Regions from separate parts of the Homo sapiens genome. Here all the other regions are linked to region 2. Evidence: fine-mapped expression QTL. A gene starts in region 2. Each other region holds a variant in brackets. All regions are shown on one strand. Distances are between the middles of the regions.

Region 1 (8,183 bases), 82 kb after region 2:
CCAGAGATCAAGGCTGCAGTGAGCCATGACTGTACCCCTGCACTCCAACCTGGGCGACAGAGCAAGACCCTGTCTCAAAAAAAAAAAAAAAAAAAGGCTGGAGTGCAGTGGTGCAATCACAGCTCACTGCAGCCTCCACCTCCTGGGTTCAAGCGATTCTCATACCTCAGCCTCCCGAGTAGCTGGGATTACAGGCGCTCACTACCATGCCTGGCTAATTTTTGTATTTTTAGTAGAGATAGGGTTTCGCCATGTTGATCAGGCTGGTCTGGAACTCCTGACCTCAAGTGATCTGCCTGCCTCAGCCTCCCAAAGTGCTGGGATTACAGTCATGAGCCACTGCACCTGGCTGCAAAAAAAGGGGAAATTTAGTTTCATTTTGGGTTAATTTTCGTATATGAGGTAAGGGTCTGATATGGTTTAACTCTGTGTTCCCACCCAAATCTCATCTTGAATTGTACTCCCATAATTCCCACGTGTTGTGGGAGGGAGCTGGTGGGAGATAATTGAATCATGGGGGCGGTTCCCCCCATACTGTTCTTGCGGTAGTTGTGGTAGTGAATAAGTTTCACGAGATCTGATGTTTTTTGTTTGTTTGTTTGTTTTGCTTTGTTTTTTTTTTTGAGACAGAGTCTTGCTCTTTTGCCCAGGCTGGAATGCAGTGACATGATCTCAGCTCACTGCAACTTCCACCTCTCGGGTTCAAGCAATTCTCCTGCCTCAGCCTCCCAAGTAGCTGGGACTACAGGTGCCTGCCACCAAGCCCGTCTAATTTTTTGTATTTTAGTAGAGAGTAGAGGGTTTCACTGTGTTGCCCAGGCTGGTCTCGAACTCCTGAGCTCAGGCAATCTGCCTGCCTCAGCCTCCCAAAGTGCTAGGATTACAGGCATGAGCCACCGTGTCTGGCCGAGATCTGATGGTTTTATCAGGGGTTTCCACTTTTGCATCTTCCTCATTTTCTCTTGCCACTGCCATGTAAGAAGTGCTTTTCACCTCCTGCCATGATTCTGAGGCCTCCCCAGCCGTGTAGAACTGCAAGTCCAATTAAACCTCTTTTTCTCTGTCTCGGGTATGTCTTTATTAGCAGTGTGAAAACAGACTAATACAGTAAATTGGTACTGGGAGTGGGGCATTGCTGAAAAGATACCTGAAAATGTGGAAGTGACTTTGGAACTGGGTAACAGGCAGAGGTTGGAACAGTTTGGAAGGCTCAGAAAAAGACACGAAAATGTGGGAAAGTTTGGAACTTCCTAGAGACTTGTTGAATAGCTTTGCCCAAAATGCTGATAGTGATATGGACAATAAGGTCCAGGCTGAGGTGGTCTCAGATGGAGATGAGGAACATGTTGGGAACTGGAGCAAAGGTGACTGTTGTTATGTTTTAACAAAGAGACTGGCAGCATTTTGCCCCTGACCTAGAGATATGTGGAATGTTGAACTTTGAGAGAGATGATTTAGGGTATCTGGTGGAAGAAGTTTCTAAGCAGCAAAGCATTCAAGAGGTGACTTATGTGCTGTTAAAAGCATTCAGTTTTAAAAGGGAAACAGAGCATAAAAGTTTGAAAAATTTGCAGCCTGACAATGTGATAGAAAAAAAATTGCATTTTCTAAGGAGAAATTCAAGCCAACTGCAGAAATTTGCATAAGTAATGAGGAATCGAATGTTAATCCCCAAGACAATGGGGAAAATGTCTCCAGGGCATGTCAGGGGTCCTCACAGCAGCCCCTCCCATCACAGGGCTGGAGGCCTAGGAGGAAAAAGTGGTTTTGTGGGCTGGGCCCAGGGTCCCCAAGCTATGTACAGTCTAGGGACTTGGTGTCCTGTGTCCCAGCCGCTCCAGCCATGGCTGAAAAAGGCGAATGCAGAGCTCAGGCCATGGCTTCAGATGGTGCAAGCCCCAAGCCTTGGCAGCTCCCACATGGCATTGAGCCTGTGGGTGCACAGAAGTCAAGAATCAAGGTTTGGGAACCTCCACCTAGATTTCAGAAGATGTATGGAGATGCCTGGATGCCCAGGCAGAAGTTTGCTGTAAGGGTGGGGCTCTCATGGAAAACCTCTCCTAGGGCAGTGCAGAAGGGAAATATGGGGTCAGAGCCCCTACATAGAGTCTCTACTGGGGTACTGCCTAGTGGAGCTGTGAGAAGAGGGCCACCATCCTCCAGACACCAGAATGGTAGATCCACCGACAGCTTGCACAATATGCCTGGAAAAGCCACAGACACTCAACACCAGCCCGTGAAAGCAGCTGGGAGGAACGCCGTACCCTGCAAAGTCACAGGGACGGAGCTGCCCAAGATCATGGGAACCCACCTCTTGCATCAGCATGACCTGGATGTGAGACATGAAGTCAAAGGAGATAATGTTGGAGCTTTAGGATTTGAATGCCCCGCCGGATTTCAGACTTGCATGGGGTCTGTAGCCCTTTGTTTTGGCCAATTTCTCCCATTTTGAATGGCTGTATTTACCCAATGTCTGTACTTCCATTTCCATCTAGGAAATAACTAACTTGCTTTTGATTTTACAGGCTTATAGGCAGAAAGAACTTGCTTGTCTCAGATGAGACTTTGGACTGTGGACTTTTGAGTTAATGCTGAATTGAGTTAAGACATTGGGGGACTGTTGGGAAGACATGATTGGTTTTGAAATGTGAGGATATGAGATTTGGCAGGAGCCAGGGGCAGAATGATGTAGTTTGGCCCTGTGTCCCCTCCCAAATCTCATCTTGAATTGTACTCCCATAATTCTCATGTGTTGTGGGAGGGACCTAGTGGGAGATAATCGAATCGTGGGGGCGGTTTCCCCCATACTGTTCTCGTGGTAGTGAGTAAGTCTCACGAGATCTGATAGTTTTATCAAGGGTTTCTGCTTTTGTGTTTCCCTCATTTTCTCTGGCCACTGCCATGTAAGAAGTGCCTTTTGCCTCCTGCCATGATTCTGAGGCCTCCCCAGCCATGTGGACCTGCAAGTCCAATTAAACCTCTTTTTCTCAGTCTCAGGTATGTCTTTATTAGTAGCGTGAAAATGGACTAATACAGGGTCCAACGTCATCATTTTGCTGTGGATATCCAGTTTTCCGCAGAATTTGTTGAAAAACACTTGTCCTTTCCCATTTAATGGTCTTGGCATCCTTGTCAAAAATCATCTCACTGTATATTAAGGGTTTATTTCTGGGCTCTCCATGTCTTTTACTGATCTATATGTCTGTCTATGTAATTTTGACCTCAAGGTTCCTTGAGATGAATTTAAGAATGGATTTTTCTCTTTCTGAAAAAAAATTGAGATTTTGATAGGATTGCTTTGAATCAACGGATCACTTTGGGTACTATAGCCATCTTAACAATATTAAGTCTTCTAATTCATGAACATGGGATGTCTTTCTGGTATTTTTGTCTTTAATTTATTTCAGCGATGATTTGCAGTTTTCAGTGTACAAGTCTTTTGGCCCCTTGGCTAAGTTTTTCTTAAGTTTTTTATTCTTTTGGACACTACCATAAGTGGAATTTTTTTCTTACAGTGAGCTGTGATCTTGCAGTGAGCCTCAGTTGTGCCACTTCGGTTTTTTTTTCTTTTCTAAAGCAAATAACAAGACACAGTTTACCATTTTTACTTTTTAAAACCTAACCTTGGCTGGGTGCAGTGGCTCATGCCTGTAATTCTAGCACTCTGGGAGGCCGAGGTAGGTGGATCACTTGAGGCCAAGAATTCAAGACCAGCCTGGCCGACATGGTGAAGCTCCATCTCTACTAAACATATAAAAATTAGCTGGGTACCTATAATCTCAGCTACTTGGGAGGCTGAGGTGGGAGGATCACTTGAACCCGGGAGGTGGAGACTACAGTGAGCCGAGATCGTACCATTGCACTCCAGCCTGGATGATAGAATGAGACTCCATCTCAAAAAAAAAAAAACATACAAAAAAAACCCCACCCAGCCTTAACACTACATATTTTTATTTTTACTTTTTTAAGACAAATTCTCACTCTGTCTCTCAGGCTAGAGTGCAGTGGCCCGAACTCACTGCAGCCATGAACCCCTGGGTTTAAGTTATCCTCCCACCTCAGCCTTCCAAGTAACTGGGACTACAAGCATGCACCATCACACCTGGTTAATTTTTAAAATTTTTTGTAGAGATGGGGCCCCACTATGTTGCCCAGGCTGGTCTCGAACTCTTGGGCTCAAGTGATCTTCCTGTGTCATCCTCCCAAAGTGCTGGGATTATAGGCGAGAGCCACCACACCCGACCTCATATGCCTTTTTCACATCCTGGGGTGAGGCATGTCTCTGCATGCCTGGAACTTAGTGGTAAGCCTCCATGTTGTAACAGATGGTGGGACCAGGTCCAAGAATGCAGGCAGCCAGTGGTGGGAAGCAGGGGAGGCTGAAGGCGACC[C/T]GGGTATCCTCTGGGCTTCTGCAGGGTTGTGCTGGTGGTGATAGTGGTGGAGGTTCTTTGTGCTTTCGTTTTTCTCCTTTCTCCAACAACAAACTGGAATTGGTTTCTTTTTTCATTGTTGTTGTTGTTGTTGTAGAGACAGGGTCTCTGTCACAGAGGCTGGGATGCAGTGGTATGATCACAGCTCACTGCAGCTTCAACCTCCAGGGCTCAAGTAATCCTCCAGCCTCAGCGTCCTGAGTAGCTGTGACTACAGAAAGCACCAGCATGCCTGGCTAATCTTAAAATTTTTTGTGGAGATGGGGTCTTGCTATGTTGCCCAGGCTGGTCTTGAACTCCTGGGCTCAAGTGATCCTCCCATCTCAGACTCCCAAAGTGTTGGGATTACAGATGTGAACCACTGTGCCTGGCCTGTTTGCCTAATTTCCTTTTCAGATTGTTCGTTGTTAGTGGTGTAGAAATACAATTGATTTTTTTTTTTTTTTTGAGATGGAGTCTCGCTCTGTGGCCCAGGCTAGAGTGCAGTGGTGTGATCTCGGCTCACTGCAACTTCCGCCTCCTGGTTTCAAGCGATTCTCCTGCCTCAGCCTCCCGAGTAGCTGGGACTACAGGCGCGTGCCACCATTCCCAGCTAATTTTTGTATTTTTAGTAGAGACAGGGTTTCCCCATGTTGGCCAGGATGGTCTTGAACTCTTGACCTCATGATCCACCTGTCTCAGCCTTCCAAAGTGCTGGGATTACAGGCGTGAGCCACCGTGCCCAGCCAATAAAATCGATTTTTGGGGGTTGATTTTGTATTCTGCAAATTTGCTCAATTTGCTTATTTTAACAGGCTTCTGTGGACATGTGTGTAACTTCTGGGATACTCTATGTATAAGATCATGTCATCTGCAAACAGAGATCATTTTATTCCTTCTTTTCCAGTTTGGATGCAGAAATTTTCAATTTCTGTTTCATGCCTAGTCACATTGGCTAAAACTTCATAGAGAGAGAGAGAGGGATACGGAATCTTGGTCTGTCACCCAGGTTGGAGTGCCGTGGTGTGATCTTGGCTCACTACAACCTCCACCTCCCACGTTCAAGCAATCCTCCTGCCTCAGCCTCCCCAGTAGCTGGGATTACAGGCATGTGCCACCACGCCTGGCTAATTTTTGTATTTTCAGTAGAGATGGGGTTTCACCATGTTGGCCAGGCTGGTCTCGAACTCCTGACCTCAAGTGATTCGCTCATCTTGGCCTCCCAAAGTACTGGGATTACAGACATGAGCCACCACACCCGGCCTGTAGGATGTTTAGCAACATCTCTGGCCTCATCCCTCTAGGTGCCAGTAGCACCACCATCCACTCCAGTTGTGACAATCAAAATTGTTTCCAGACATGGCGATTGTTCCCTAAGGCCTGGGGCAGAGTAGGAGAGTGGAATCATCCTTGCTTGAGGATCACTATTCTGCACTAAAAAAGAATCAAAAAGGATATGTAGGGTTCTCTTTTCCATAATATGTATTTATTATTTTTTAATTTTTTCGATACGGAGTCTTGCTCTGTTGCCCAGGCTGGAGTGCAGTGGCACAATCTTGGCTCACTGCAACCTCCGCCCTCTGGGTTCAAGCAATTCTCCTGCCTTACCGTCCCAAGTAGCTGGGATTACAGGTGCATGCCACCACGCCCAGCTAATTTTTGTAGTAGAGATGGGTTTTCGACATGTTGGCCAGGCTGGTCTCGAACTCCTGACCTCGTGATCCGCCTGCCTCGGCCTCCCGAAGTGCTGGGATTACAGGCATGAGTGACCATGCTCAGCCTATATTTAAATTTTTATTTCCCCCGAGATGGAGTTTCGCTCTTACTGCCCCAGCTGAAGTGCAATGATGCAATCTCGGCTCACTGCAACCTCCGCCTCCTGGGTTCAAAGTGATTCTCCTGCCTCAGCCTCCCGAGTAGCCGAGATTACAGGTGCCCGCCACCACACCCGGCTAATTTTTTGTATTTTTAGTAGAGATGGGGTTTCATCATGTTGCCCAGGCTGGTCTCAAATTGCTGACCTCAGGTGATCCACCCTCCTTGACCTCCCAAAGTGCTGGGATTGTAGGCGTGAGCCATCGCGACTGGACTATTTTTAATATTTAAAGTGATTCATTTTTATAGCCAGAAAAGAACATTTTGAAATTATTGGCCAGGTACACTGGCTCATGCTTGTAATACAAAAATACAAAAATTAGCCAGCTGTGGTGGCTTGTGCCCATAGTCCCAGCTACTTGGGAGGACCACTTGAGCCCAGGAGGCGGAGGTTGTAGTGAGCCAAGATCATGCTACTACACTCCAGCCTGGGCAGCAGAGCGAGCACTTTTCTCAAAAAGAAAGAAAAAAAGAAATTATTTACATTTATTGAGCACACAATATGTGCCAAGCAGTTTACCCATATATTAAAAGTATTGATATTTGCCGGGCTCAGTAGCTCACACATGTAATCCCAGCACATTGGGAGGCCAAAGCGGGTAGATTACCTGAGGTCAGGAGTTCGAGACCAGCCTGACCAACATGGAGAAACCCCGTCTCTACTAAAAAAAAAAAAAAAAAAAAAAAAAAAATACAAAATTAGCCGGGTGTGGTGGCACATGCCTGTAGTCCCAGCTACTCGGGAGGCTGAGGCAGGACAATCACTTGAACCCAGGAGGTGGAGGTTGCGGTGGGCCAAGATCGTGCCATTGCACTCCAGCCTGGGCAACAAGAGTGAAACTCCGTCAAAGTCTGTTTTGTTTTGTTTTGTTTGAGATGGAGTCTCGCTCTGTCACCCAGGCTGGAGTGCAGTGGTGCAATCTCGGCTCACTGCAAGCTCCATCTCCCAGATTCATGCCATTCTCCTGACTCAGCCTCCCGAGTAGCTGGGACTACAGGCGCCTGCCACTATGCCCAACTAATTTTTTGTATTTTTAGTAGAGATAGAGTTTTGCCGTGTTAGCCAGGATGGTCTCGATCTCCTGACCTCGTGATCCACCCCCCTTGGCCTCCCAAAGTGCTGGGATTACAGGCGTGAGCCACCATGCCCAGCAAAAAATAAAATAAATAAAGTATTGATGTTTATTGCTGGATTTGGTGGCTCATGCCTATAATCCCAGGGCTTTCAAAGGCTGAGGCAGGAGGATCACTTGAGGCCAGGAATTTGAAACCAGCTTGAAAAATATAGTGAGACCTTCATCTCTAAAAATAAAAAAATTAATCAGGCAGGGTGGTGTGTACCTATAGTTCTAGCTACTCAGGAGGCAGAGTCAGAAGGATTGCTTGAGCCCAGGAGTTCTAGGCTGCAAGGAGCTATGACCATGCCACTGCACTCTAGCCTAGGTAACAGTGAAACTTGTCTCTTAAAAAAATATGTGTTGGCCGGGCATGGTGGCTCACGCCTGTAATCCCAGCACTTTGGGAGGCCAAGGCAGGTGGGTCACCTGAGGTCAGGAGTTCCAGACCAGCCTGGCCAACATGGCGAAACCCTGTCTCTACTAAAAAAGTACAAAAATTAGCCGGGCATGGTGGCGAGCACCTATAATCCCAGCTACTCAGGAGGCTGAGGCAAGAGAAGCTTGAACCCAGGAGGTGGAGGTTGCAGTGAGCCAAGATGGCACCATTGCACTCCAACCTGGGCGACAAGAGTGAGACTCTGTCTCAAAAAAAAAAAAAATGTGTTGATGTTTATTGAGCAGAGACTCAGTAGGATACACTTTTTCTTTTCTCTTTTTTCTTTTTGAGACAGAGTCTCACCCTGTCGCCTAGGCTGGAGTGCAATGGTGCAATCTCAGCTCA
Region 2 (8,165 bases):
CGTTGCAATGCCTCTCTAGTTATCAAGCTCCTGGAAGTGCCGGTGGGTCCATGGCTGCTGGGGGACAAGCCCACACAGGGACTGACTGAGGCTTGTCCCTTTTTCTAGAGAAAATGCAGGAAGCTGCTTTGGGTCGTTTATTTACTAAGAGACAGCAAGAAGGGGTGTTACACATGCAGGGAGCGGAGCGTCTGGGGCTCCCCTGGAGTGAGGACATTTGGCTGTCAGTGTCCAGCATCTGTGAAAGCGGGGATCCTCCAAGCCAGGGCTAGGGTGTGATTTATTCTGCAGTTGACTCCACAGGCTGCAGGTGGCATTGGTCTGGGGTAGATAGTGAGCACCCATCCCAGGAGGTAATCAAAGGCCTGTAGATGCGAGACTTTATGGTGCTGTGTGGCCTCAGGAGCTCACCAGACCAGACCCTCTGGGCCTCAGGCCACTCTGAGGCTGCACCCAAGGAGGAATCAGTAGGGACAGAGGGTCAGCAGGTCTTGTTGGGTACAGCCACTGAGGCAGCAGTAGCGTGCAGGGTTGGTGGCAGCTGCACGGTGGTGGCGGTGATGGTGAGAGGTCTGGGGCAGGGGCTGCAGGCCAGGTCCCAGCGTGAGATTACTGTCGGCCACCAGCCCATGGAGCAGATGTCGTCTCTCCAGCCACTGTAGCAACTCACCTGGGGACAGAGTGAAACTCAGCTGGAACGGAAACGACAGAGGACATGCTACCCCATGCTGCATGTGCACGAATCCACACACATCCCACTGAGTAACCCACCAAACACTCATGCATGCAGATAAAAAGTGAGCACTGGCCGGGTGCAGTGGCTTACACCTGTAATCCCAGCACTTTGGGAGGCCGAGGTGGGCGGATCACGAGGTCAGGAGTTTGAGACCATCCTGGCTAACACAGTGAAACCCCTTCTCTACTAAAAAAAAAAACAACCAAAAAATTAGCCGGGTGTGGTGGCGGGCGCCTGTAGTCCCAGCTACTCAGGAGGCTGAGGCAGGAGAATGACGTGAACCCAGGAGGCAGAGCTTGCAGTGAGCCGAGATCACGCCACTGCACTCCAGCCTGGGTGACAGAGTGAGACTCTGTCTCAAAAAAAAAAAAAAAAAAGTGAGCACTGGCCCGGCTCAGTGGCTCACGCCTGTAATCCCAGCACTTTGGGAGGCCGAGGTGGGTGGATCACTTGAGGTCAGGAGTTTGAGATCAGCCTGGCCAACATGGTAAAAACCTGTCTCTACTAAAAAATACAAAAATTAGTCAGGCGTGGTGGTGGACGCCTGTAATCCCAGCTACTGGGGAGGCTGGGGTGGGAGAATCACTTGAACCCAGGAGGTGGAGGTTGCAGGGAGCTGGGATCATGCCATTGCACTCCAGCCTAGGTGACAAGAATGAAACTCCATCTCAAAAAAAAAAAAAAAAAAAAAAAGCGAGCACTTATTAAGCACCTACTGTACGCCAGGCACCTGGTTAATCCTCTCATCCACTCAACTCATGTCCACACTCACATCCCCAGCTGCGTGGGTCCCCATATGCCACCTGAGTGCCCCATGCCCTGCCCAGGGAGTGTCGGGGGTCTTGGAGCTACAGATGGTGTCAGTTTCCCCAACAGGTCCAAGGGTCCGTGAGACACCCAGAGCAGGTCAGAGACCCACCCACAGACTCCTCGTGGTACAGAGACATGCAGGGGTGTACATGTGTCTGTGGGTCCACTTCCTGGTCACCCACGCATGTGTGGTGGACCCACAGACACACACACACCCCTACGAGGACACACCCTTGCAGACCACCTCCCCTGGATCCCTAACACCGCAAGTGGAGTGGCACACAGAGACATGTGGACACGTGTTAACACATCTGCACAAACTTGTCGTATATCCCTGCACCAGGGCCAGGACTAGGGTACAGACAGGGAGGCACGAAGCCATCAGGATATTTTTTTGAGGCCAGGCACCGTGGCTCACACCTGTCATCCCAGCATTTTGGGAAGCCTAGGTGGGTGCGTTGCTTGAGCCCAGGAGTTCATGACCAGCCTTGGCAATACAGCAAAACCTCATCTCTGCAGAAAATACAAAAATTAGCTGGGCATAATTCTGCATGCCTGTAGTCCCAGCTACTTGGGAGGCTGAGGTGGGAGGATCGCTTGAGCCTGGGAAGGCAAGGCTGCAGTGACCCGAGATCGTGCCACTGCACTCCAGCCTGAGTGACAGAGCAAGACTGTCTCAAAAGAAAAAAAAAAGGACTTATGAAAATTTAGAGGGTTGTTTACCCTCTACCCAATCTGCAGTTTACAATTGACACCAGTGGTTCTCAAACCAGGGTGATTTTGTTTCCAGGGGATACTTGTCTGGGGACAGTTTTAGATGTCACAACTTGGATGGGGTGTGAGGCTATTCATGGCATTAGGGGGCAGAAGACAGAGATGTTATCTAACACCCTACAATATACAGGACAGCCCCACTACCATATACATCCCCAAATGTCAGCATCAGCTTTTTTTTTTTGAGATGGAGTCTCGCTCTGTTGCCAAGCTGGAGTGCAGTGGCGTGATCTTGGCTCACTGCAACCTCCACCTCCCGGGTTCAAGTGATTCTCCTGCCTCAGCCTCCTGAGTAGCTGAGACTACAGGTGTGCGCCACAACGCCCGGCTAATTTTTGTATTTTTAGTAGAGACGAGGTTTCGCCACGTTGGCCAGGCTGGTCTCACCAGCCTGAGAGTAGCTAGTCACAGCTACTCAGGAGGCTGAGGTGGGCAGATTGCTTGAGTCTGGGAGGCAGAGGTTGCAATGAGCCGAGATCACGCCACTGCACTCCAGCCTGGGTGATAGAGTGAGACCCTGTCTCAAAATATATATATATAATAATAATAATATTAATATTTTTCCCTTTTTTGAGACAAGGGTCTCTGTCTCAGGCTGAGTCTCATATTGCCCAGGTTGGTCTCAAACTCCTGGCCTCAAGTGATCTTCCCTCCTAGCCTCCTGAGTAGCAGGGATTACAGGCATGAGCCACCACATCCAGCAAGGTAAGTATTTTAATGCAATACTTTTAAAATAAAATTTAAAATATTTGTAAAAAGGCCAGGCACAGCGGCTCACGCTTGTAATCCCAACACTTTGGGAGGCTGAGGCGGGCAGATCACCTGAGGTCAGGAGTTCAAGACCAGCCTGGCCCGGGCACAGTGGCTCATGCCTGTAATCCCAGCCCTTTGGGAGGCCGAGGCAGGTGGATCACGAGATCAGGAGATTGAGACCATCCTTGCTAACATGGTGAAACCCCATCTCTACTAAAAATACAAAAAATTTAGCTGGGCTTGGTGGCAGGCGCCTGCAGTCCCAGCTACTCAGGAGGCTGAGGCAGGAGAATGGCGTGAAGCCGGGAGACGGAGCTTGCAGTGAGCCGAGATCACACCACTGCACTCCAGCCTGGGGGACAGAGCGAGACTCAATGTCAAAACAAAACAAAACAAAACAAAACAAGACCAGACTGGCCAACATGGTGAAACCTGTTGTTTCACCTGTTCACCTGTCTCTACTAAAAATACAAAAAAAAAAAAAAATCAGCTGTGCATGGTAGTGGGTGACCTGGGGAGTGGCCTGTAATCCCAGCTACTTGGAAGGCTGAGGCAGGAGAATTGCTTGAACTCAGGAGGCGGAGGTTGCAGTGAGCTGAGATCGTGCCACTGCACTTCAGCCCGGGTGACAGAGCGAGACTCCATCTCAAACAAACAAACAAAATACAAAAATTAGCCAGGTGTGGTGGTGCGTGCCCGCAGTCCCAGCTACTCTGGAGGCTGAGGCAGGAAAATTGCTGGAACCCGGGAGGCAGAGGTTGCAGTGAGACGAGATCACGTCACAGCACTCTGGTTTGGGTGACAGAGCGAGGCTATGTCTCAAAATAAATAAATAAAAATAAAATAATAAAATAAAGTAACATAATTGTGAAAAGCAATACTTTTCAAAAGCAATACTTTTAAATACTTTTAAAGCTGGACACAGTGACTCACATCGCTAATCCCAACACTTTGGAAGGTCAAGGTGGGAGGATTACTTGAGCTCAGGAGTTTGAGACCAGCCTGGGAAACAGAGTGAGACTCCCTCTCTACGAAAAAGAAAAAAAAATTAGCTGGGTGTGGTGGCAGCACCTGTATCCCAGCCACTCCAGAGGCTGAGGCAGGAGGATGGTTTGAGCCCAGGAGGTTGAGCCTGCAGTGAGCCGAGATCTCACCACTGCACTCCAGCCTGGGCGTCAGAGTGAGACCCTGTCTCAAAAAACAAACAAACAAAGCAAAATTAAGGCAAAAATTCATGAAGATCAAAATATTGAAATTTTAAGACAGGATCTCACCATGTACTTGCAAGAGCCTACCTCTCCTGCCTCACTCTGTTTCTGGCCCCTCAGGGGGACTCATGCTCTGAGGACTTTCTTTTTTTTTTTTTTTTGAGACGGAGTTTCACTCTGTCGCCCAGGCTGGAGTGCAATGGCATGATATCGGCCCACTGCAACCTCTGCCTTCCGGGTTCAAGCGATTCTCCTGCCTTGGCCTCCCAAGTAGCTGGGATTACAGATGTGCATCATTATCCCCGGCTAATTTTTTTAAAAATTATTTTTAGTAGAGATGGGGTTTCACCATTTTGGCCAGGCTGGTCTCGAACTCCTGACCTCTGGGGATCCACCCGCCTCAGCCTCCCAAAGTGCTGGGATTGCAGGCGTGAGCCACCACGCCTGGCTAACGGCTCTGGGGACTTTCACACGCGCGTTCACACACACTCCAGTGCGGACCCACGATCTGTGCACGCAGCCGGCAGGTGAGCCCTGGGCACATGCATGCAAACCTGCCCACCTCCCTGCACGTGTGCATCTGCGCCTACGTGCACCTGCCCCACCTCGGCTTCCCAGAGCGCTGTCCCTGCCCGTCCCCACTCACGGTCGCCTCCGGTCGCAGGCCTCCTGGCTTCGGTGGACCAGCGGGGGCCCCCGCACACGCGCACTAGCGCGCGTACGAAGTGGTGGCCGCACAACTTCTCACGCATCTCTGGGGTGGGCGCGGGGCCCAACGCGAACACCAGGGCAGGGCCCAGCAGCACCAGCGCCCAGGCGGGCAGACGGGGGTCCATGGTGGTGGGTGGCGCCGGGGCCAAGCGGGGACCCCCTTTATAGGCGCCTGGGCCGTCCCAGCTGGGGGCCTTGGAGAAGGGACAGAACATTCTTCAGGACCGCCCAGGAAAAAGGTCAAGGGTGGGGTTAGTGCCAGAGCCTTTCTCCCAGGGCCAGGGCCTTGGATGTACTTCTCCCAGAGGGAGCACTGGGCAACGAGTCTTTCTTTTTTATTTTTTTCTTCTTTTTTTTTGAGATGGAGTCTCACTCTGTCACCCAGGTTGGAGTGCAGTGACTTGATCTCGGCTCACTGCAACTTCTGACACCCGGGTTCAAGCGATTCTCCTGCCTCAGCCTCCTGAGTAGCTGGGATTACAGGTGCGCACCACTATGCCTGGCTAATTTTTTTTTTTTTATTTTTTATTTTTAGTAGAGACTGGGGTTCGCCATGTTGGCCAGGCTGGTCTCCAACTCCTGACCTCAAGCGATCCATCTGCCTCGGCCTCCCAAAATGCTGGGATTACAGGCATGAGCTGTGCCTGGACTATTATTATTTTTATTATTATTATTGAGACAAAGTCTTGCTCTGTCTTCCAGGCTGGAGTGCAGTGATGCGATCTCGGCTCACTGCAACCTCCACCTCCTGGGTTCAAGTGATTCTCCCACCTCAGCCTCCCAAGTAGCTGGGATTACAGGTGTAAGCCACCACGCCCAGCCACCTATTTTTATTTTTTATTTTTGAGATGAGTTCTTGCTCTGTTACCCTGGCTGGAGTGCAGTGGCACGATATGGGCTCACTGCCACCTCCCTATCCCTGACTCAAGCAATTCTCCCACCTCAGCCTCCTGAGTAGCTGGGACTACAGGCCCACGCCACCACACCCGGCTAATTTTTTGTATTTTTTTTGTAGAGATGGGGTTTTGCCATGTTGCCCAGGCTGGTCTCAAACTCCTGGACTCAAGTCATCTTCCCGCCTCAGCCTCCCAAAGTCCTGGGATCACAGGCGAGAGCGACCACACCAGGGTATTTATTCATTTTTGACATAGGATCTCTCTGGGTTGGCCTGTAATGGCAGGATCATAGCTCACTGTAACCTCATTCCCCTGGGCTCAAGCGATCCTTCAGCCTCTGCCTCCTGAGTAGCTGGGACTACAGGCCTGCAATACAATGCCCAGCTAATTTTTAATTTTTTAATTTTTATTTTTATCTTTTTAGACAGAGTCTTACTCTGTCACCCAGGCTGGAGTACAGTGGTGCGATCTCGACTCACTGCAACCTTTGCTTCCTGGGTTCAAGCGATTCTCCTGCCTCAGCCTCCTGAGTAGCTGGGATTACAGGTGCCCACCACCAAGCCTGGCTAATTTTTGTATTTTTTAGCAGAGACGGGGTTTCACCATGTTGGCCAGGCTGATCTCAAACTCCTGACCTCAAGTGATCCACCCGCCTCGGCCTCCCAAAGTGCTGGGATTACAGGCGTGCACCAACGCGCCCGGCCATTTTTAATTTTTTAATTGTAGAGGCAGGGGTCTTGCTATGTTGCCCAGGCTCATCTAGAACTCAAGTGGTTCTCCCTACTCGGCCTTCCAAAATGCTGGGATTACAGGTGTGAGGCACCACACACGGCCAAGTCTTCGCTATTGTCTTAACCAGTTTAAAGAGATGAAATAGATCAACTGAAAAGTAATAATCCTGCCTTTTCTGGGGGGCAGGGGGGAAGACAGCGGGCATCTTCCAAGACCAGAAATGTTCAGAATTTTGTTGTTTCTATTACTGTACAAATGAGAAAACTGAGGCACACAGGCCAGGTGCAGTGGCTCATGCCTGTAATGCAAGCACTTTGGGAAGATGGGGCAGGTGGATCACTTGAGGTCAAGAGTTCGAGACCAGCCTGCCCAATATGGTGAAACTCTGTCTCTACTAAAAATACAAAAATTAGCCAGATGTGGTGGTGCATGCCTATAATCCCAGCTACTCGGGAGGCTGAGGCAGGAGAATCACTTGAACCCAGGAGGTGGAGATTGCAGTGAGCCGAGATGGTGCCGCTGCACACCAGCCTGGGGACAGAGACTCCGTCCCCTCACCAGACAAAAAGAAAGAAAAGAAAAGAAAAAAAGAAAACTGAGGCACAGAGAAAGGACCCCAAACTTGCCCAAGGTCACAGGAGGCTGAGCAGAGCCCAGGTCTTCTCAAGGCGCCTGACACGCAGGGCTGGGGGTGTCCCATCCGAAGCTCTGTCTCCCCAACACGGTTGTCCCCTCTGGGTGAGCAGGGGCTGGTGGACCCAGAATAGAGCAGGATTTATTTGTTCAGTGGATGCTTGGCCCCCGCTTCATGCCTAGGGGGTCTTATAGCTTTGTTTTTCCAAGGAGGGAATCTGAGGTTGAGAGAGGGAAGGATGCTTGACCCTAGGCAGGAGAGAACCTGGGCTGGAACTCGAGTCTTGCTTGACCCCAGAGCAGCTCCCTCCCTATTTCTACCAAATTAGGGGGCCCTCTGGGGCTAAGAGAGCAGGGACAGGGATCTCTCTCTCTCTCTCTCTCTGAGTCTCTCTCGGCCTTCATCTCTCAGTTTCCTTCTGTATGTCTGTCTCTGTCCGCATTTTTCTTTTTTTTGAAACGGAGTCGCTCTGTCGCCCAGGCTGGAGTGCAATGGCATGATCTCAGCTCACTGCAACCTCCACATCCCAGTTTCAAGCAATTCTTCTGTCTCAGCCTCCTGAGTAGCTGGGATTACAGGCATGTGCCAGAACACCAGGCTAATTTTTGTATTTTTAATAGAGACGGTTTCGCCATGTTGGCCAGGCTGATCTCATACTCCTGACCTCAAGTGATCCTCCTGCCTTGGCCTCTTAAAGTGCTGGGATTACAGACGTGAGCCACTGAGCCTGGCCACTCTCCACATCTTTCTAGCAGTTATGAGGTGCACATGACGGGGGCCGGTCGGTGGGGAGGTGGTCCGGCCCCAGTGATGCTGGTCCCCTCCCCACAGCCTCGCTCCCCCAACCTGGCCTTGTCCTCTGACCACCGGGAGAGCATCCTGTTCCTTCCCCACCCACAGAGAGCCTGTAA
Region 3 (8,183 bases), 30 kb after region 2:
GCTAATTTTTGTATTTTTAGTAGAGACGGAGTTTCACCATGTTGGCCAGGCTGGTCTCAAACTCCTGGCCTCAGGTGATTCGCCTGCCTTGGCCTCCCAAAGTGCTGTGATTACACACGTGAGCCACATTGCCCAGCCTTTTTATTTATTTATTTATTTTGTAGGGGGGAGGACGGATTCTTGTTCTGTCTCCCAGGCTGGAGTGCAGTGGCATGATCTCGGCTCACTGCAAACTCCACCTCCCAGGTTCAAGCGATTCTCCTGCCTCAGCCTCCTGAGTAGCTGGAATTACAGGCACCCGCCACCAAACCTGGCTAATTTTTGTGTTTTTAGTAGAGATAGGGTTTCACCATGTTGACCAGGCTGATCTCGAACTCCTGACCTCCAGTGATCCGCTGGCCTCAGCCTCCCAAAGTGTTGGGATTAAAGGCATGAGCCACTGTGCCCAGCCCCAGTCGAGTTTAAAATAAGGCTTCAGTGGCAGTGGCGCCCCACTGCAATCCCAGCTACTCAGGGGGCTGAGGCAGCAGGATAGCTTGAGGCCAGGGGTTAGAGACCTGCCTGAACAACATAGCAAGACTCCCATCTCCAAAACAACAAAAAAATCTTAACAGAATATTATTATTCTGTAATACTGTAACAAAAAAAAATGAAAAGTCAGAGGTGATGTTTGGTCCCAGAAAACGCCATAGTTTTTTTGGTTTTTTAAAAATGTTTGTAGAAATGGAGGTCTGGCTATGTTGCCCAGGCTGGCCTTGAACTCCTGGCCTCAAGCTATCCTCCCGCCTCGGCATCCCCTGTTTATAATCCTCAACGTTCTGCATCCTGGTATGGTCGGGTACCCTGTGTCTGGACCGGGAAGGCCTGGAGGGTAGGGGCTGGGAACTCCGCCCCCCAATCCCTCCTTCCCAATCCCTCCTCCCCACCCCCAACCCCGCAGCCCCCGTCGCGCATGCGCAATGACTCCTCCAGGTCCGCAAGGCAGGCATCTCCCGGCCTTAGTCAAAGCCGAAGCCCAGAGAAGCGAGCGATCGGAGGATGCGAGTCTCGGCTCACGTCTGCCTCGCAGCTTTCCTCCGAGGCCTGGAAGGCGAGCTAGCCTTTGCCCTGGCAGCACCCTGCCCCAGCCCAGCCATCCCCCGCCACCACCATCCTCCCCCAGTGTCTGGGCCGAGCCCTGCGGCATCGCCAGCTCTTACCTAGCGGGCAGGGACCCTGGACTTTCGAAGGGCGGGCAGAGCCGGGAGGCAGCGAGAGGAAAGTCCCACTCGGCTCCTTCCTGTGTGGGCCCCTTGGTTTCCTGAGCCACTGTCATTTACCGAAAGTCAGGGCCCTGCGGGAGCTGGGGGCGGGGAGGCGGGCAAGGAGGGGCAGAAAGTTCCGGAAGCCTCTGCATCAGCCGCCCCGTTCAGACAGGCTGCTGGAGACCCCTAAGCCAAAGGAACTGATGATAGCACAGAGAAGGGTCTGGGTCACACCAGGGGCTCAGCCGACTCTAGACCCACTTGTTAAGTGGGGCTCTGGCCCGGCCCTTATTGCCTCAGTTTACCCATCTGTAGCATGTGTGAGTTGGGCACCCAGTGGAACTAATTTTGCACCCAGGGAAGGAAACCTGGCTGGATTTGCCCAGGAGGGAAGCAGGGAAGTTGCCCCAGAGGAAGGTCAAGTTCTTCTTTGAGGTATTTCTCCCTTAAGACTCAGGGAGACGCTGGGCGCAGTGGCTCACGCCTGTCATCCCAGCACTTTGGGAGACTGAGGCGGGCGATTACTTGAGGTCAGGAGTTTGAGACCAGCCTAGCCAACATGGCGAAACTCCGTCTCTACTAAAAATACAAAAATTAGCCAGGCGTGGTGGCCTGTAATCGCAGCACTTTGGGAGGCTGAGGCGGGCGGATCACTTGAAGTCAGGAGTTTGAGACCAGCCTGGCCAACATGATGAAACCCTGTCTCTACTAAAAACAGGAAAATTAGCCAGGCCTGGTGATGCCTGTAATCCTAGCTACTCAGGAGGCTGAGGTGGGAGGATTGCTTGAATCTAGGAGGCGGATGTTACAGTGAGACGAGATGGCGCCACTGCACTCCAGCCTGGCAACAGAGCGGGACTTCGTTTAAAAAAAAAAGAAAAGACTCAGGGAGAGATAATGACCCATTTCTGCCTGTGGTGCCCTGGGCCCAGCCCTAAAAAACCAGGTGGATCCGGCCTGGCCTCTTGGAACTTGTGATCTGGCGCTGAGACAATGAGCAAATGAAGGAGCCAAATCATCGCAGACAACAAAGAAAGCCAGGGTGTCAGGACAGGCACAGACTGGAACTTGGACCCGAGGCAGGACAGGGAGCTGGCCAGGGAAAGGGTGCTCCAGGAGGAGGGCACAGGATGGGCAAAGACCTTGAGAGGGCAGTGATCTTAGCAGCTTGAAGAGCAGTCAGGAGGCCAGGGGCAGGGGTGAGATGAGGGGGAAGGGGACTGCAGGGCGGTCAACAGGGGCAAGATCGTGGGGGGACAGGGGGATCAGGGTCTTTGGGAGAAGGGTGGGTTTTGCCTGGAGCATAATCTGGAGCCACAGGAGAGTTGGAAGTAGGAGCTGTTATAAATAGAAGAGGCAGAAGGCCCGGGCAGCATCCAAATGCAGAGACTTGGGCCAGTGTTCTTAGGATAATAGGATCAGAGCCCCGGAAGTAGAGCTTCAGGAATAGACTGACGAAGTGGTGACCGGGTACAGTGGCTCACATCTGTAATTCCAGCACTTTGGAAGGCCCAGGTGGGAAGATTGCTTGAGCCTAGGAGTTCGAGACCAGCCTGGCCAACATGGTGAAACCCCATCTCTACTAAAAATATAAAAATTAGCTGGGCGTGGTGGCATGTGCCTGTAATCCCAGCTACTTGGGAGGCTGAGGCAGGAGAATCACTGGAACCCAGGAGGCAGGCGGAGGTTGTAGTGAGCTGAGATTGTGCCACCGCACTCCAGCCTGGGCGACGGAGCAATACTCTGTCTCAAAAAAAAAAAAAGGAATAGATTTAAGAAGTTGTGGCCAAGAACAGTGGCTCACACCTGTAATCTCAGCACTTTGGGAGGCTCAGGCAGGAGGATGGCTTGAGCCCAGGTGTTCGAGACCAGCCTGGGCAACATGGTGAAACCCTGTCTCTACAAAAAATACAACAACAACAAAATAATAAGCTGGATGTGGTGGCATGTGCCTGTAGTCCCAGCTACTAGGGGAGGCTGAGGTGGGAGGATCACCTGAGCCCAGGAAGTTGAGGCTGCAGTTAGCTGTGGTCATGCCACTGCACTCCAGCCTGGGCAATGGGAGTGAGATCCCGTCTCAAAAAAAAAAAAAAAAAGACTTTTCATCTCTGTATCACCATCACAAGTCTTAACACAAAATGGTTTGGTAAGTATTTTGTTGATCTTAACTGTTCAATCAGCCAGAGGCTTATTGGACACAGCCTGTGTGCAGGGAATCGGGGACAATGCAGACCCAATCCCTGTCCAGGGGAGCTGACAGTCCAGCAGGGGAGATGGCAATAAACAAGCTATTGCCCAATAATTATATCAGTTGCCCCTGGGACCGGTCTGCTAAGAGAGATGACTGGATCTGGGAGGGCTTCCTGGAGGAGGTGGCTTTGATTCTGAAATCCAACAACAAGTGGGACTAGCCAGAGAGTGACCTGAGAATGTGGGAGTGTGGGCAGTTCTGGCAGGCAGAACAGCCCAGGCAAAGGCCTGGAGGCTTCACGAATTCACAGTGTTCCTGAGAAGAGCAGGATGTCAGGGACACGGGGGGCTGAGACTCATTTGATGGCGTGGGTAGGGCCGCGTGGGTCAAGGGAAAGAGATATAGATTATGTCCTCAGCTTAGTGGAGCTTAGTGGAGCCACAGCTGACCTGCGGCAGGAAGTGCCAAGCAGAAGCTTAGTTGTAGTGTTTTCTTTCACTTCCTGGGTGGCTTCAGCAGACGGGAATGCAACCTTATGTTCTCATCCTTGGCCTGAGGCTGAAGCCTCTGCTTTCCGGAAGTACAGTGAGTTTCTGGGTCTCTGCTACCTCCAGTGTGATGGTTTCTGCAATATTTTGAGAATAAGTAAGAGGAGATTGGGGTGAGGACCAAAGTGGTACCTTCAGCCCCAGAGAAGGGCATGTGAAGGCTCTAAAAGGAAGTTCTGGCCGGGCGCGGTGGCTCACGCCTATAATCCCAGCACTTTGGGAGGCCGAGGCGGGCGGATCGCCTGAGGTTAGGAGTTCGAGACCGGCCTTGCCAACCTGGTGAAACCCCATCTCTACTAAAAATACAAAACGCAGCTGGGTGTGGTGGCGGGCGCCTGCAGTCCCAGCTACTCAGGAGGCTGAGGCAAGAGAATCACTTGAACCTGGGAGGCGGAGGTTGCAGTGAGCCGAGATCGCACAACTGCACTCCAGCCTGGGCGACACAGCAAGACTCCGTATCAAAAAATAAATAAATAAATAAATAATTTTTTTTAAAAAAAGGAAGTTCTGGGGACAGAACCCAGAACTTGCCCGAGAAAAATGGGGCACGTCAGTGATGCAAACACCCAGATTTTTCTGCTGACAAGAAGTCCATAAATACAATCAAAGAATAAAATACAATCAAAGTGTAACTGGAAACAAAATTGAACTCATGGATAAAATATCCT[C/T]GTTATATAAGTAACATCTAGAAAGCAGTAAGAAAATGCCAACCAGTTAGGTGGATATGAATCCAGAAGTCAGAGAAAATGGAGGACAAATAGCTCTTAAACCCAGAAAAATTTCCTCAGCTTCACTTGCCAAATGAAAATTAAGAGTACAGTGAGGCAGGGCCAGGCACGGTGGCTCATGCCTGTAATCTGAGCACTTTGGGAAGTCAACATGGGAGGATCATTTGAGCTCAGGAGTTGGAGATTAGCCTGGGCAACATGGTGAGATCCGTCTCTACAAAACATACAAAAATTAGCCAGGCATGGTGGTGTGCACCTGTAGTCTCAGCTACTTGGAAGACTGAAGTGGGAGGATGGCTTGAGTCCAGGAGGCAGAGGTTGCAGGGAGCCAAGATAGTGCCACTGTACTCCAGCCTGGGCGACAGAGCGAGACTACATCTCAAAAACAAAAACAAAAATGGTAAAAGACTGAATAACTTCCTCCTGAGATTGGAAACAAGACAAGGATGTCCATTTTCACCACCTCTATTCAACATTGTTCTGGTGATGTTAGCCACTGTAATAAGAAAAGAAAAAGCAGGCTGAGGCAGGAGAATGGTGTGAACCAGGGAGGCGGAGCTTGCAGTGAGCCAAGATCGGGCCACTGCACTCCAGCCTGGGTGACAGAGTGAGACTCCGTCTAAAAAAAAAAAAAAAGAAAGAAAGAAAAGAAAAGCTGGGCATGGTGGCTCACGCCTGTAATCCCAGCACTTTGGGAGGCTGAGGTGGGAGAATCACAAGGTCAGGAGTTCAAGACCAGCCTGATCAACATGGTGAAACCCCATCTCTACTAAAAATACAAAAATTAGCCAGGCATGGTAAAAATACAAAAATTAGCCGTGCGTGGTGATGCGCGCCTGTAATCCCAGCTACTCAGGAGGCTGAGGCAGGAGAATCGCTTGAACCCGGGAGGTGAAGGTTGCAGTGAGCCAAGATCGCGCCACTGCACTCCAGCCTAGGTGACAGAGGGAGACTCTGTCTCAAAAAAAAAAAAAAAATTAAAAATTGGCAGGGTGTGATAGCTCACACCTGTTGTCCCAGCTATTTGGGAGGCTGAGGATTGCTTGAGTCAGGGAGGACAAGGCTGCAGTAAGCCATCATCACACCATTACACTCCAGTCTGGGCAACAGAGCGAGATCCTGTCTTAAAACAAAAAAATATATGAGAAAAATAAACAAGTCAGGTGTGGCTGGGCATGGTGATACATGCTTGTAGCCTCAGCTACTGGAGAAGCTGAAATGGGAGCCCAAGAATTTAAAGGCAACATAGCAAGATTCTGTAACAAGCAAAACAGAATAAAATAAGTAATAAAAAAAAGGTAAATAAAACTGTTGCTATTTGCTGATGATATGATTGTTTATGTCAAAAACCCAAGGGAATCTATAAGACAACTACTGAAATTAATACATAAATTCAGCAAGTTACCAGGTTTAAAAAGTCCGTTGAATTCAATACAAAAGTCAATTGAATTTTTATACACCAGCAGCAAACAATTGGAACATAAAAAAATTTTGAAAAATTTCCTTTGCAGCAGCACTGAAAAAGATAAAATACTGTGATGGTCTGAGAGTTTGCGTCTCCCCAAAATTAATACATTGAAATCCTAACCTCGAAGGCGGTGGTATTCAGAATCGGAACCTTTTAAGAGGTGATTAGATCATGAGGGTTGAGCTCTCATGAATGGGATTAATGCCCTTATAAAAGAGGCCCCTAGGCTGGGCATGGTAGCTCACGCCTGTAATCCCAGCACCCTGGGAGAATTGCAGGCTGGTCTCTGACAAACAACTTGTGTTTGAGACCAGCCTGGGCAATGTGGCGAAACACCACCTCTACCAAAAAAAACACAAAAATTAGCTGGGCATGGTGGTGCACACCTGTAGTCCCAGGTCAGGAGTTTGAGGCCAGCCTGATCAACGTGGAGAAACCCCATCTCCACTGACAAAACAAAATTAGCTGGATGTGGTGGTGCATGCCTGTAATTCCAGCTACTTGGGAGGCTGAGGTGGGAGAATCGCTTGAACCCAGGAGGTGGAGGCTGCGGTAAGCCGAGATCACACCATTGCACTCCAGCCTAGGCAACAAGAGCAAAACTCTGTCTCAAAAAAAAAAAAAAAAAAAAAAAAGGCCGGGTGCAGTGGCTCATGCCTGTAATCTTAGCACTTCGGGAGGCCAAGGTGGGTGGATCACCTCAGGTCAGGAGTTCAAGACCAGCCTGGCCAACATGGTAAAACCCCGTCTCTGCTAAAAATACAAAAATTAGCTGGGTGTGGTGGCGCACGCCTGTAATCTCAGCTACTCTGGAGGCTGAGGAAGGAGAATCGCTTGAACTCGGGAGGTGGAGGTTGCAGTGAGCTGAGATCGCGCCACTGCATTGCACTCAAGGTTGCGTGACAGGAAAGAGGCTACATCTCAAAAAAAAAAAAAAAAAAAAAAGAAGGCCAGGGACCTGGAGTCCGGAGTGCATACAAGTGGGTGGCTTTGCAGTGTTTTGAGGACCAACGGTCAGAAACCAAGATTTGGGTGTCTTGGGCCCAGCCTTGGGAAGGCACTGGTGCCAGTAACTGAGATGAGGGAAAGAGTGGGAAGGATGAGGCACATCAGCATTGTGAACGCTCCGTGATCCAAGCTGTGGCTTGGCCCAGGATCCTGGATGAACAAACTGGTGCCTTCAAAGTCCCTGGGAAAAAGACAGGGGGGACAGGGGTGCCCTTGGACAGCCCTGCTAACCAGGAACTCCTCGCCTGGGCCCCACTGGATGGTGATAACAGAGACACAGAGTAGCCCAGGACCAGCCTGCTCAGGTCAGATTCCTGCATGGCCCGAGGTGGGGGCAGAGGAATCCTGCCAGGCCAGGTGTGTCACTAGGAAGCCGGGGCCACGGCATCACTCAGGCACCGACAACATGTAAAAGAAAGAAAAATAATAAAGCTTTTTTTTTTCTTTTAAATTAAGACAGTTTCACTCTGTTGCCCAGGCTGGAGTGCAGCGGCATGATCTTGGTTCACTGCAACCTCTGCCTCTAGGGTTCAAGTGATTCTCGTGCCTCAGCCTCCCGAGTAGCTGGGATTACAGGTGTGTGTCACTGCACCCAGCTAATTTTTGTATTTTTGGTAGAGACGGGGTTTCACCATGTTGGCCAGGCTGGTCTCGACTCCTGACCTCAAGTGACCTGCCCGCTTCAGCCTCCCAAAGTGCTGGGGTTACAGATATGAGCCACTGTGCCCAACCAAAAAGAAAAATAATAAAGCTCTGGGCCGGGCGCGGTGGCTCACGCCTGTAATCCCAGCATTTTGGGAGGCTGAGGTGGGTGGATTATCTGAGGTCAGGAGTTCAAGACCAGCCTGTCCAACATGGTGAAACCCCGTCTCTACTAAAATTACAAAAATTAGCCGGGCGTGGAGGCAGATGCCTGTAATCCCAGCTACTCAGGAGGCTGAGGCAGGAGAGGATGGCTTGAACCCAGGAGGCAGAGGCTGCAGTGAGCTGAGATTG

What was found.
Region 1: its variant is fine-mapped to the expression of INSL3 in spleen (GTEx, PIP 0.96).
Region 3: its variant is fine-mapped to the expression of INSL3 in whole blood (TOPMed, PIP above 0.99).

What each region holds. Positions count from the first base shown.
Region 1 is chr19:17,898,587-17,906,769 of GRCh38, forward strand. No RefSeq gene overlaps it. Among named protein-coding and RNA genes, the nearest start is that of CCDC124, 30 kb to the right of the region's middle. The variant C/T (reference allele first, on the strand shown) is at 4,392.
Region 2 is chr19:17,816,390-17,824,554 of GRCh38, forward strand. INSL3 (insulin like 3) reads right to left here and starts at 5,130. Exons shown (of 2, transcript NM_005543.4): 1 at 4,928-5,130; 2 at 123-670. The coding sequence starts at 5,117. The coding sequence ends at 465.
Region 3 is chr19:17,846,747-17,854,929 of GRCh38, forward strand. It overlaps JAK3 (Janus kinase 3), which reads right to left and starts at 1,236. Exons shown (of 24, transcript NM_000215.4): 1 at 1,200-1,236. The variant C/T (reference allele first, on the strand shown) is at 4,652.